2 separate regions of the Homo sapiens genome follow, and region 1 is linked to region 2. The links come from fine-mapping of genetic effects on gene expression. A gene starts in region 2. The other region holds a variant in brackets. All regions are shown on one strand. Distances are between the middles of the regions. Region 1 overlaps PMP22 (peripheral myelin protein 22). Region 2 holds the start of PMP22 (peripheral myelin protein 22).

The links.
Region 1: its variant is fine-mapped to the expression of PMP22 in prefrontal cortex (CommonMind, PIP 0.95).

What each region holds. Positions count from the first base shown.
Region 1 is chr17:15,228,072-15,233,071 of GRCh38, forward strand. It overlaps PMP22 (peripheral myelin protein 22), which reads right to left. Exons shown (of 5, transcript NM_000304.4): 5 at 1,708-3,009. The coding sequence ends at 2,846. Among named protein-coding and RNA genes, the nearest start is that of MIR4731, 21 kb to the right of the region's middle. The variant A/G (reference allele first, on the strand shown) is at 2,269.
Region 2 is chr17:15,263,320-15,268,319 of GRCh38, forward strand. It overlaps PMP22 (peripheral myelin protein 22), which reads right to left and starts at 2,007. Exons shown (of 5, transcript NM_000304.4): 1 at 1,835-2,007. It overlaps LOC124903931 (a long non-coding RNA gene), which reads left to right. Exons shown (of 2, transcript XR_007065632.1): 2 at 2,137-2,590.

The DNA.
Region 1 (5,000 bases), 35 kb before region 2:
ATATGGTTTTTTTTTAAATGCCAAGAGTGTTACCTGGGTAGGGAGATTTAGGGGCCGTTTTTGCTTTTCTTCTTTATTCTTATCCCTATTAATTTTTAATGAAATGTTAGAAAAGTTTATGAAATAAAAGTGTATGTTTTCAAAGTACCAGCTCGTGAAATAAAATTCCTAGTTTTCTTAATCTCACATGCATCTCATGGCCACCTGTGCCACCTTAAAACTATCTGAGTCAAAAGCAGAGTAGCAGTCACTACTGAAAACCTCAGAAAAGAGAAGTCCTTCCGTCACAGACACCCAAGGACAGAAGAGCACAAGGTACCTGAAGGTGGCTTTATGCTAGGCCCTTGCTACTCAAAGTGTGGTCGGTGGACAAGCAGCATCCACCTCACCCAGGCACTAATTGGAAATGCAGAATCTCAATCCCCACCTGGGCCTAAAGTTTCAGAATCTGCATGCTATCAGATTCCCAGGTGATTCACTAGCATGTTGAAGTATGAGACCTCCTGCACTAGCTCAGAGGTGTCATCCCCAGTTGCATGCTGTAATCACCAGAAGTGTTCTTTAAACCATGATGGGTGGGTCCCATCATGGAAACAGGGAATCCAAATCTCTAATGGGAATTCCTGCATGGGAGATTCCAGTGTGCAGACTGATACTGAGAATCCTGCATAACAGTCAATGTCTCTCCTACATGCTCTTTCAAATATACCTCTGTTGTAACATATGTGATAACCACTCTAATCTATAGAGTCTTTCTAGGTACTAGTCACTATGCTGAACACTTTATCCATATAACTTCCTTGAAATCCCCTCAGCCCTATACCCTTGTTATTGGCATCCCCATTTTATAGATGAGAAAACTGAATCTTAGTGTTTACGTAACCTTTTCAGGCCCCTATGGCTGGTAAGCAGCAAAGGACAGGCTCAAACCCAGGCTCTCATTTCTATGCTCTTAACCTTATTATAATATAGTCACTTGTTTACTTGTACCTCTCACTAAAATGTGACCTTTCGATGTTAAGATATATGTCATTACTTCTTTATCTTTGGTACCCAATTCAAAATAGTTGCACAATAAATATTAAGGACTATCAACCACATCATTTGCTTGTTATTTTGCAGACACACAACAAAAGGTCGACGGGTAAAAATATGGACGCATGAGACACAACTCAGAAACCCTGAGCTGGGTGACAATGGTGGCCTTTTCTCTCCTTCAGGATGGCATTAGGAGCTTAGTTGGTGCCAACCAATGTTTTATCTGCAAGTGTGGCCTCAAGTCACCATCATTCAGACCTTTCACCATATCATACCTCAGGGTGAGGGATCTGAGATGCTTCTGCCAACATTCCCAGTATATCAGGGCAGCTCATGACATGCCTCCATGTTTTCCATGTGGGTCATCAAACAACAGAGCACCAGAGAGGGTTGAACTAAATGAATACTCAAGTGCCTTCCAGTCCATTTACAGCCTCCATTTCAGCTGCAATTCCCAACTGTCTCCAATTAGCAAACCTTTGCACAGACATCATGAAGGCATCATGTGCTCCCTGTAGCTTGTAAAACAGCTATGATTTTGGTGCCTTAGCACCATCTTGTAACCCAAATCTCCAGCTCAACTTTGCTTTCCACTGAAGCTCTTCATCCTGCTCCAACAGGCACCTTGTACCCACACCCAAGTTCCCACAAAAACTCAAGAGAGACCAGTGAGTTACTCTGATGTTTATTTTAATGCATCTTAGTCCACACAGTTGGTATAAAATCAGAAAATGCAAAGCAAAAACAAAAGGTCTGGAGTCTTAGCATCAGAAGGGCACCATATATACATCTACAGTTGGTGGCCAATACAAGTCATTGCCAGACAGTCCTTGGAGGCACAGAACAGCCTAGACCCAGCCAAGCTCTAGGAACTCACGGTCCCAAGGAGTCTAGACGCTTGTTCTGATGCTCCGACCGTAAGAAAAATGTGGGAGTGATGAAGGCTTTATGATTTACTCATTATAGTAATAATAGCAGCCTAGCTAGGTACAAAAGCAGTTATAAACCATTTATATTACACAGAATTATTCAGGTCTCCATTCTATCTTATGTTGTAAAATTGTTAATTGGATTTCCAGTGAGTTGTTTAGATGATTAGTGATAATAAGGAATGGTAAATCCATAGCACCATTTCAAAGACTTGTTGTCACTGATTTCTCATTTAGATGTGTGACGAAGATACTCCACCTGTAAGGGCAAGTATGCCAATGCCACAAGCCGTGTTTTTGC[A/G]AGGGCTCCAGTTTGGGCATTTTGTCCGTGTGCGCGTAAAGCTTCACACAGAGGTTCGGGCAGCGGCTGTTTCTGTTGGATGCACTGGGTCACCCACCAGAAAAGGGCTTTTGGACATTTGGGGTTTCTACCCACACTTTGGTTTTCTAAATGAGGTGGACTGGGAGGGAGGTATCTTCTTTCAGATGAAAGGGAAGGGGCGAGATGGAGTTATCTTATTTCTGGGTAAAACAAAACAAACAAACAAAAAACAAAACAAAAATACTGAGCTGGATTATACTGTTAGGATGTAAAGTTCCTTAGCTACTTCTTTAAGGCTCAACACGAGGCTGATGGTCAACATAAAAAGCAAACAATACTATGTACATATATGTAAAAAGTGTTATAAATAGGTTTTATAAACCGGAGATATTATATACATCTTCAATCAACAGCAACCCCCACCTCCACTGCTTTCTGTTTGGTTTGGTTTGAGTTTGGGATTTTGGGCTAGCTCTTTTTTCTTTGTCTGCTTTCTGTTTTCCCTTCCTCCCTTCCCTATGTACGCTCAGAGCCTCAGACAGACCGTCTGGGCGCCTCATTCGCGTTTCCGCAAGATCACATAGATGACACCGCTGAGAAGGGCCAGGGGGAAGGCCACCCAGGCCAGGATGTAGGCGAAACCGTAGGAGTAATCCGAGTTGAGATGCCACTCCGGGTGCCTCACCGTGTAGATGGCCGCAGCACTCATCACGCACAGACCTGGGGAAGGAGAGGGACAAGCTGGGTGACGGAGAGTCCATGGCAGAGCGGCCCCCTCTCCGCCACCCCGGATGCTGACAATTGCTGGGTAGGAAGAACATTTCTACCTCTGGAAGGAAATCTGCTTCCAGGTCCAGAATTGAAAGGAGGTAGCACAAAAATATGGGAACAAGGAAAACAACTTGCTCTCTATTTCCAATCTTGGCCACCTAGGCCTTAATACCTGAGGGTTTTCTTTACATTTTCTGCCCTATTTCTCTTTCTTTCACTGTCACCAATTCCCAGGCCACACTACATGGCCAGCAGGCATTCAGGCTGCAAGAAAAACCTACCTGTCTCTTTCCAAGGGTGGTTGGGTATGGAAACCCCTGGAAATCTATATGCCACTCTACAAGTGAGTGGTGGCATTACCTAAAGCCAATGGAAGTGAAGTGACATTTTACCATTATTGGAGTCACGCCATGGTAAAAGGATTAAGCTCCATGCAGACCACAGGGGCCTATGGTCCCCCTAACAGAGTTGCCACATACCAGGTGAAGCAAGCAATGCCTATGGGCACTGCCAAACAGACAAAGAAATGTGTGGAGAGGGAAAAAGAAAGTGAGGAATAAGGATGCAGCCGACAGTATGACTGGGAAGCCACGCTGCAGAGGGGGAAGATGATCAAAGGCAAGCTCCATTTCCCTGGGTGCCCCAAGGTTGCATTTGAAGCCCAAAGAAGGCTAAAGGGCACTGGATATGCAGGTGGGTCAGGCCACCCTCCCTGGCCCACCAATGCAGCCCTTCGGTGTTGGAAAGAGAAGAAAAGCCTCCATCTTGGGCCCTGTGGAGCAGCCACGCTCAAACTGATGGCCCCAGCTCACGTGACAGACAGCGTCCCCCCACAAGGAGGGGTCCAGTGATGTCAGCACCCCAGCCTGGAGCTGCACAAAGCCTGGTCTGTTTCCTCCCTGAAAACAGGGTCTTTGAGAAGCTCTGAGTGACTCTATTATAAATCCAGTATGCCGTGTGGGATTCATGCAGTTCCAGAGTTCCCAATGCACCCGCGCCCCCCCACCGCCCGGCCACCTACATCTAACCTCACTGCTATTTGGGCTGCTGTTTTACTGGACACTGCAACTTTGTTTGAAGACAGTGCAGAAGTGGGAATACGCCACATGAACCACCCTGTTAAGCCTGTCCTCCTGCAACTCAGAGGAGAAAACTGCCACTTGACTGGCCCCTGTCAAGAGAGCCACACAATAGTCTTGGAACCAAAATGGGACAGCATCCAGGACCTGCCACCTACAGGAAGTTCAGAAGACAGCAAAGATGGCCATGTCAGGAGCGAAATCATTGCGGGTTAATTGTTGATTGCAGAAAACAGCAGTTTTGATCTGCTGGGGACACACTTTATTTGCCTTGAGGTCCAGGATCCTTAATTATCTTGCCCCACTCTTCCACGGCTTGCATCTCCAAAGTGCTAACTCTTGTCTTTAAGAAATACTGAAGTTGTCTCTTGGGCTCTGTCTGACTTATCTAATGAAGGCAGGGCTATAAAAAAGGAAACATGACCTTGGCAGAGAGAAAGGTGTTAACAGAGTGCTAGCAGGGCAGGACAACACTTATCATCATGCAGGCAGGGCTCCCAAATGGGCTGTCTAACCAGATCTGGCATGAGAAATGCCTCAGGAGCTGAGTGGACCAGCTACTCCCCGATTTCACTGACTAAGAGGAGATACCAGATTCCATCCTTGAACAAGAGGGATAGAAAGAGGCAGTATAGAGAAGTGCAGCGACTAACTACACAGCTTAATGTGTATGACTTTCATCTTAGTAGAATCTCAGAAGTGAATGACTCTAAGCTTAACCGTGATAAGCAGTAAACTTAGATATCTACAAAGCCAAAGAGAGGATACACACTTTATATGATTGTTGTCATGAGACTGATGTTTTAGGGAATATATTATTACAAGATTGTCTGCATGTAAAGCAATAGATGTACCCTGAAA
Region 2 (5,000 bases):
GCCATGGGGTTTGGCGGGCGGGTGCGAGGTGGCCATTTGAGGTGGGGTTGGAGCAGCCAAGGAAATCAGCTGATTCATAGCCTCCTAACGTGGCCCGCCCAGCGTTACAGGGAGAGAGGCTAGCCCCCTTCAGTCTCGGCTTGGCAGAGGCGCGCCCAACTGAGACTCCCGTGCGCAGGCCAGCCTTGAGGCACGGGACAGGGAGCAGGAATGTGGATGTTAAAGGTTTCTGCCTGAAAATGCAGCAGTTCACGCACGCGCGCGCACACACACACACACACACACTTCCCTACCTCTAGTGTACTGTGTCATAGAAGCTCATCACTCTCAATGATTCAAATAATTCTATATTATTTTACGATTTGAAAGGAGCTGCTATTTTAGCTAATTGTATATTCTTACGGTAAGTAAAAATAAATTTGAAAAAGATCTTCAAACAATGATCTTTTTAAAACTATCGTGTTATCAGATTAAAATGAAGTGTACTTGTAAACACTGCATTTACAGTGCCCGTTATATGCCAAGCACTTTGCCTGGACTTTATATGCATGGTCTGTGAGAGGCAGTATGGTGCAGTGGTTAGGCACTCTGGCTCTGGGCTCCAACAAACCTAATCACCCTGCTTACTTTTGTTGTGAATTTGGGCAATTTCTCAAGTTCACTGAGCTTCAGTTTTCTCAGGTGCAAAAGGAAATAGTAATGCCTGCTTTAAAGGTTTATGGTGGTGATTGAAGGAGACAATATGTACAAAGCAGTTAACATCGTGTCTGCAACATAATAAGGGCCCAGTGCCCAAATTGCCACCACTATTATTATATCACATTTAACTCTCACATCAACCTTTCAGGGAAGACCTGACCACCTCTGCACTAAAGTAGCTTGTAACTCTGATAGGTAGGTAGGTAGGTAGGTAGATAGATAGATAGATAGATAGATATAGATAGATAGATAAAGATTTATAAATGAAAGTGCATATGCAAGTAGAAAAAAAAGTCTAAAGACATGGCAGTGTTTTCTTTCCTCCACAGGTCATTTTATAAGTTAGATTTGCTCTAGAAATTATTACTTTGTTTTATGCCATTTGGACATTTATTTATTTAACCAACACTTATGTGATCACAACATACTCAGGACTGTTCTAAGTAAGCACTTTAGAAATATGAGCATATCTAACTCAGGGTTTTCTTTCCCTTCCTTTGTGATTTTCAAATAAACTTTTTAATAAAGTCTAATACACATACAGAAAAGTGCATATATTGGGTGCTACAGCTCGCTTCTTCCTTTCTTTTGAACCCAATAGTTTAATCAATAACCACCCAGGTCACAGCCACACCATATACTGCCAGACAGGTAAACCCAACCCATCTGTCCCTCACTGCCTCTGGCCTCCTGCCTGGTTCTCAATGGTGGCAGAGGAAGTGCTACTCAGTGCCTGCTGACCAGGCTTGCCACACCCAGAGCCCGGCTGGCCAAGGCTCTGCCACAGGTGGCAGCTTCTCCCTAACCTGCTTACCAAGGCCACCTGCCAGCTGTGTGTGCACAGCTATTTTCCATGGGGGAAAAAGCATCTAGATTCCTTTCTTCCTTTCAATCTGGATGCATTAGGGTTTCTAGATGCTCTCAGATGGCCCCCCACCTCCCCAGCCAGAGTATATATCCACCTTTTAACCAAGGATATAAAAAGCCCTCTGAATCTCCAGTCAATTCCAACACAAATGCACCATCTCTCCTGCAATCCTTTTCATTTGCGGCTTGCAGGGGGTGGGAAATTAGGCAATTCTTGTAAAGCATAGGCACACATCACCCAGAGGCACAGTTTGCCAATAAAACTCACCCGGCCAAACAGCGTAACCCCTTCTTCCAAGCAGATTTCTTTGCAGCCAAATGCAAGGGATGTTAAGGCAAGACCCTCCCCACAGGGCAGTCAGAGACCCGCAGCCGACAGACTAAGCCTGCAGCTTCCAACCAGGCTCCCCGAGATGTTCCCTGGTGGTGCTCCCTGTAACTGAAGCCAGACCAGGCGTCTTTCCAGTTTATTCAGGGGCTGGTCCAATGCTGGGATATGTCATGGTGGCCTGAGAGGTTCTCAGCCTCTATTATTTAAAGAGACAGTGTCCAACTTTGTTTGCTTTCCAGAATACAATAATCCCAAGAGGCCCTGCAGGGCATGGAGAAACTGGAATCAGAAGGGAGAAGAGCTTTGAGTATGCCTGAAGCCTGTGATGCCAAGACTGTTCTCTCTGGAAGTGCCAACCTGTGTAATAGCCAAGAGGTCCCACTGGCTCCCCTCCCCTCCCAGTGAATTCTGCAGAGATTAAATATACTGTGGGAAGGATCTGTGTCTACAGTGTTACATACGTGCAGGTAAGTTTTATTTTAAATAAACTTCCTTTTAAGGAGCCCAAACATTGCACAGCTAATCTCTCACAGCATCACAGCAGTGAGCCAAATGTCTCAAGAGTCACCAAATCAAGCCTCCTTTGTTCCAACCCCTGGTTGGAAGGACTCCCTGTTACCTGCCTTGTCTGCCTAGACCCCATCGCAAATGATCACATGTGTTGTACATTAGAATAAAACTTAGGGAAATGTGTTCTTCCGACTCTGTCTTTAATGTGCCCGAATCAAGCTGACCTTCATGAGATAATTCAATGCAAGTAAACGAACCTCTATTGAAAACTATTGAAAACTTTCTAACCTGTCAGGCAGAATAGGCTGGAAGAGCAATTGGAAATTCTTGGAGAGGGAAGTAAAGGAAGTTATGGCATATTTAGGTTCTTTGCAGCGTACCACTCCAGCTCCCAGAGAGTCCTCCATCCCTTGAACCGCTTCTAGCTGCAAACTCTGACACAAGAGGACTGGTTTCATTGCATGAGTTTCCTGGAATTCTGGCACTTGGGGCATAAGACTTCCTCTTGTGTTAGGGATCCCCAGTCTGGAGAGACCTGCAGAATTTGGAGGAGTCCCTCCCTGTCACACACTTTACGTTTGATTGGACTCTCCAGTCACAAGGGCCTCTCAATGGCCCTCTCCCCTGTTCTGCCCACAGCCAGCATCTGCTCACAGCCAGCATCACAGCCAGTGCCAATAAAATAGTTTCACCTTTCTCTCTTTGCTGAAATCATTTTTATTTTTCACAGCAGTGGTTCTTTAGAATCACTCAAGAGCTTTGCAAATGACCTAGCCTGGGCCATGGTCAGAGAAGCTGACTCAGGTGTTTTGGGATGGGGCTCAGGTATGGGTAATTTCCAGTGTCTTTCTCCCCGCTGGATGTTTCGTTGTCCAGCCAGGTTGTCATGTGGAGTTAGATTGTCGCTGATTTCCTTCCAGCTCCCTTCTGTTGTGGAACCCAAATGGAGATGAGGTACAGTGTGGGCTGCTGCAGTATTATGCAAGTTATAAGTCTGTTCTGCCAGGCAAAACGGTGTGTGTGTGTGCGCGTGTATCTGTGTGTGTGTGTGTGCGCGTGTGCGTGTGTGTGACAGAGAGAGAGAGAGAGGAGCCTCCCTCAGTCCTCCTCTGACATGGTCTGTACGGGGACTGGGAACAGTGAGCATGGTTTTTGCAGCCTCTCCAGACAGTCTTTTCCTGGGTACTGCCATGATCAGCTCCAAAGGCTACACGACAGAGGCTGCTGTCCGTCAGGCCAGGATCAAGCCTGAAGACACGTAAGATTATTTCTGATCTAAGAGCTAAAGATTCAGAGGAAAAGGGGTAGGGCCTGGTGAGTGTGGGGCATGGCTTCTGGCCAGATAGGAGCAGTCTGATTAGCCCTCCCTCTCTCCTTCCATGAGCTCCACATTCTGAGACCTGCTCTCTTGGCCTCACGTCTCTTTTGCCCAGGTCCTCCATCTCCAGCAGCCAAACCCCGAAGTCCCTGTTGGCTGTCAGCAGTAGAGCTGTTCACTGTTGTGTGCCACTGGCCCTGTCTACCAGATGCCAACACACTTGTCTTTACCCATCTGGGCCAGACTCTCTTCCCTTCCCAGAGTCAGGTGAGGAAAACTCCTTCCTCGTCTCCCATTTCCAATAACCTTTTCTCAGCCAAATGGGACCCCTATCCCATGCATCTGTGTTGAGCAATGTCTCTGCAAAGCTGTAGGCTATATCCCACTGAGCCTCTTGCAAAATAAACACATAGAATAGTCACCAAATAACATTTATTATTATTTGCTATCCTCCCTTCCATTTACAGATAGGAAAAATGAGAATCGGGATTCTCTGAGGAAACACAGTTGAGTCAATGAGACTGGCTATTTCTAGCACCTGAGCTGTTCTGCTACACCACGCTCCATCGGCTCAGTAGCATCAGTTATCCGCAAGTCCTTGATAATGATGATAATAGGTTATATTTACTTCGTGTTTAGCATATGCCAGGCACCATCTTGAATATTTTATATGCATCAAATCACTTAATCCTCACAACCGTATGAAATAGGCACCCCATCATCCTCTTTTAGAAGAGGGAGAAACTGAGGCACAGCGAGATGTTCAGTCACTTTCTCAAGACACACTGCAAAGAAATGACAGAGGCTGGATTCCAACCAGGCATTCTGGCTACAGATCCCGTACTCACAGCCTGGACTATCTCACATTCTACCGTGCCCCTAATTGTGCCCAGCACGTTCCTAGCATATCTTCTCATCATGCTTCCATAGACACTATCATTTAATGTCCTATTTGTATGAAAGATATTCTCACATTATACATATTTATGCATTCACGTTTCTTTTTCCATTAAAAAGCAAGAACATATCCTAAGACATCCATTTTTTTTTCAGCACCAGTCACATTTAGTACAGCTTTCAAGAATCCTGTCTCATCCTGCCAACAAGGCTGTGTGCTCCTCCGAGGACATTTGCATTCCATATGTCTGTATAGCATAAGCACTGGCAGAATCCTGCCTGTAGGTGAGATTTTAATTTCATAAGAATGAAATGTTGTCCATGACAGTGGAATCCCAGCAGACTCTTGAAGAGGGAGGAAACCCTTCCGCACTTTAT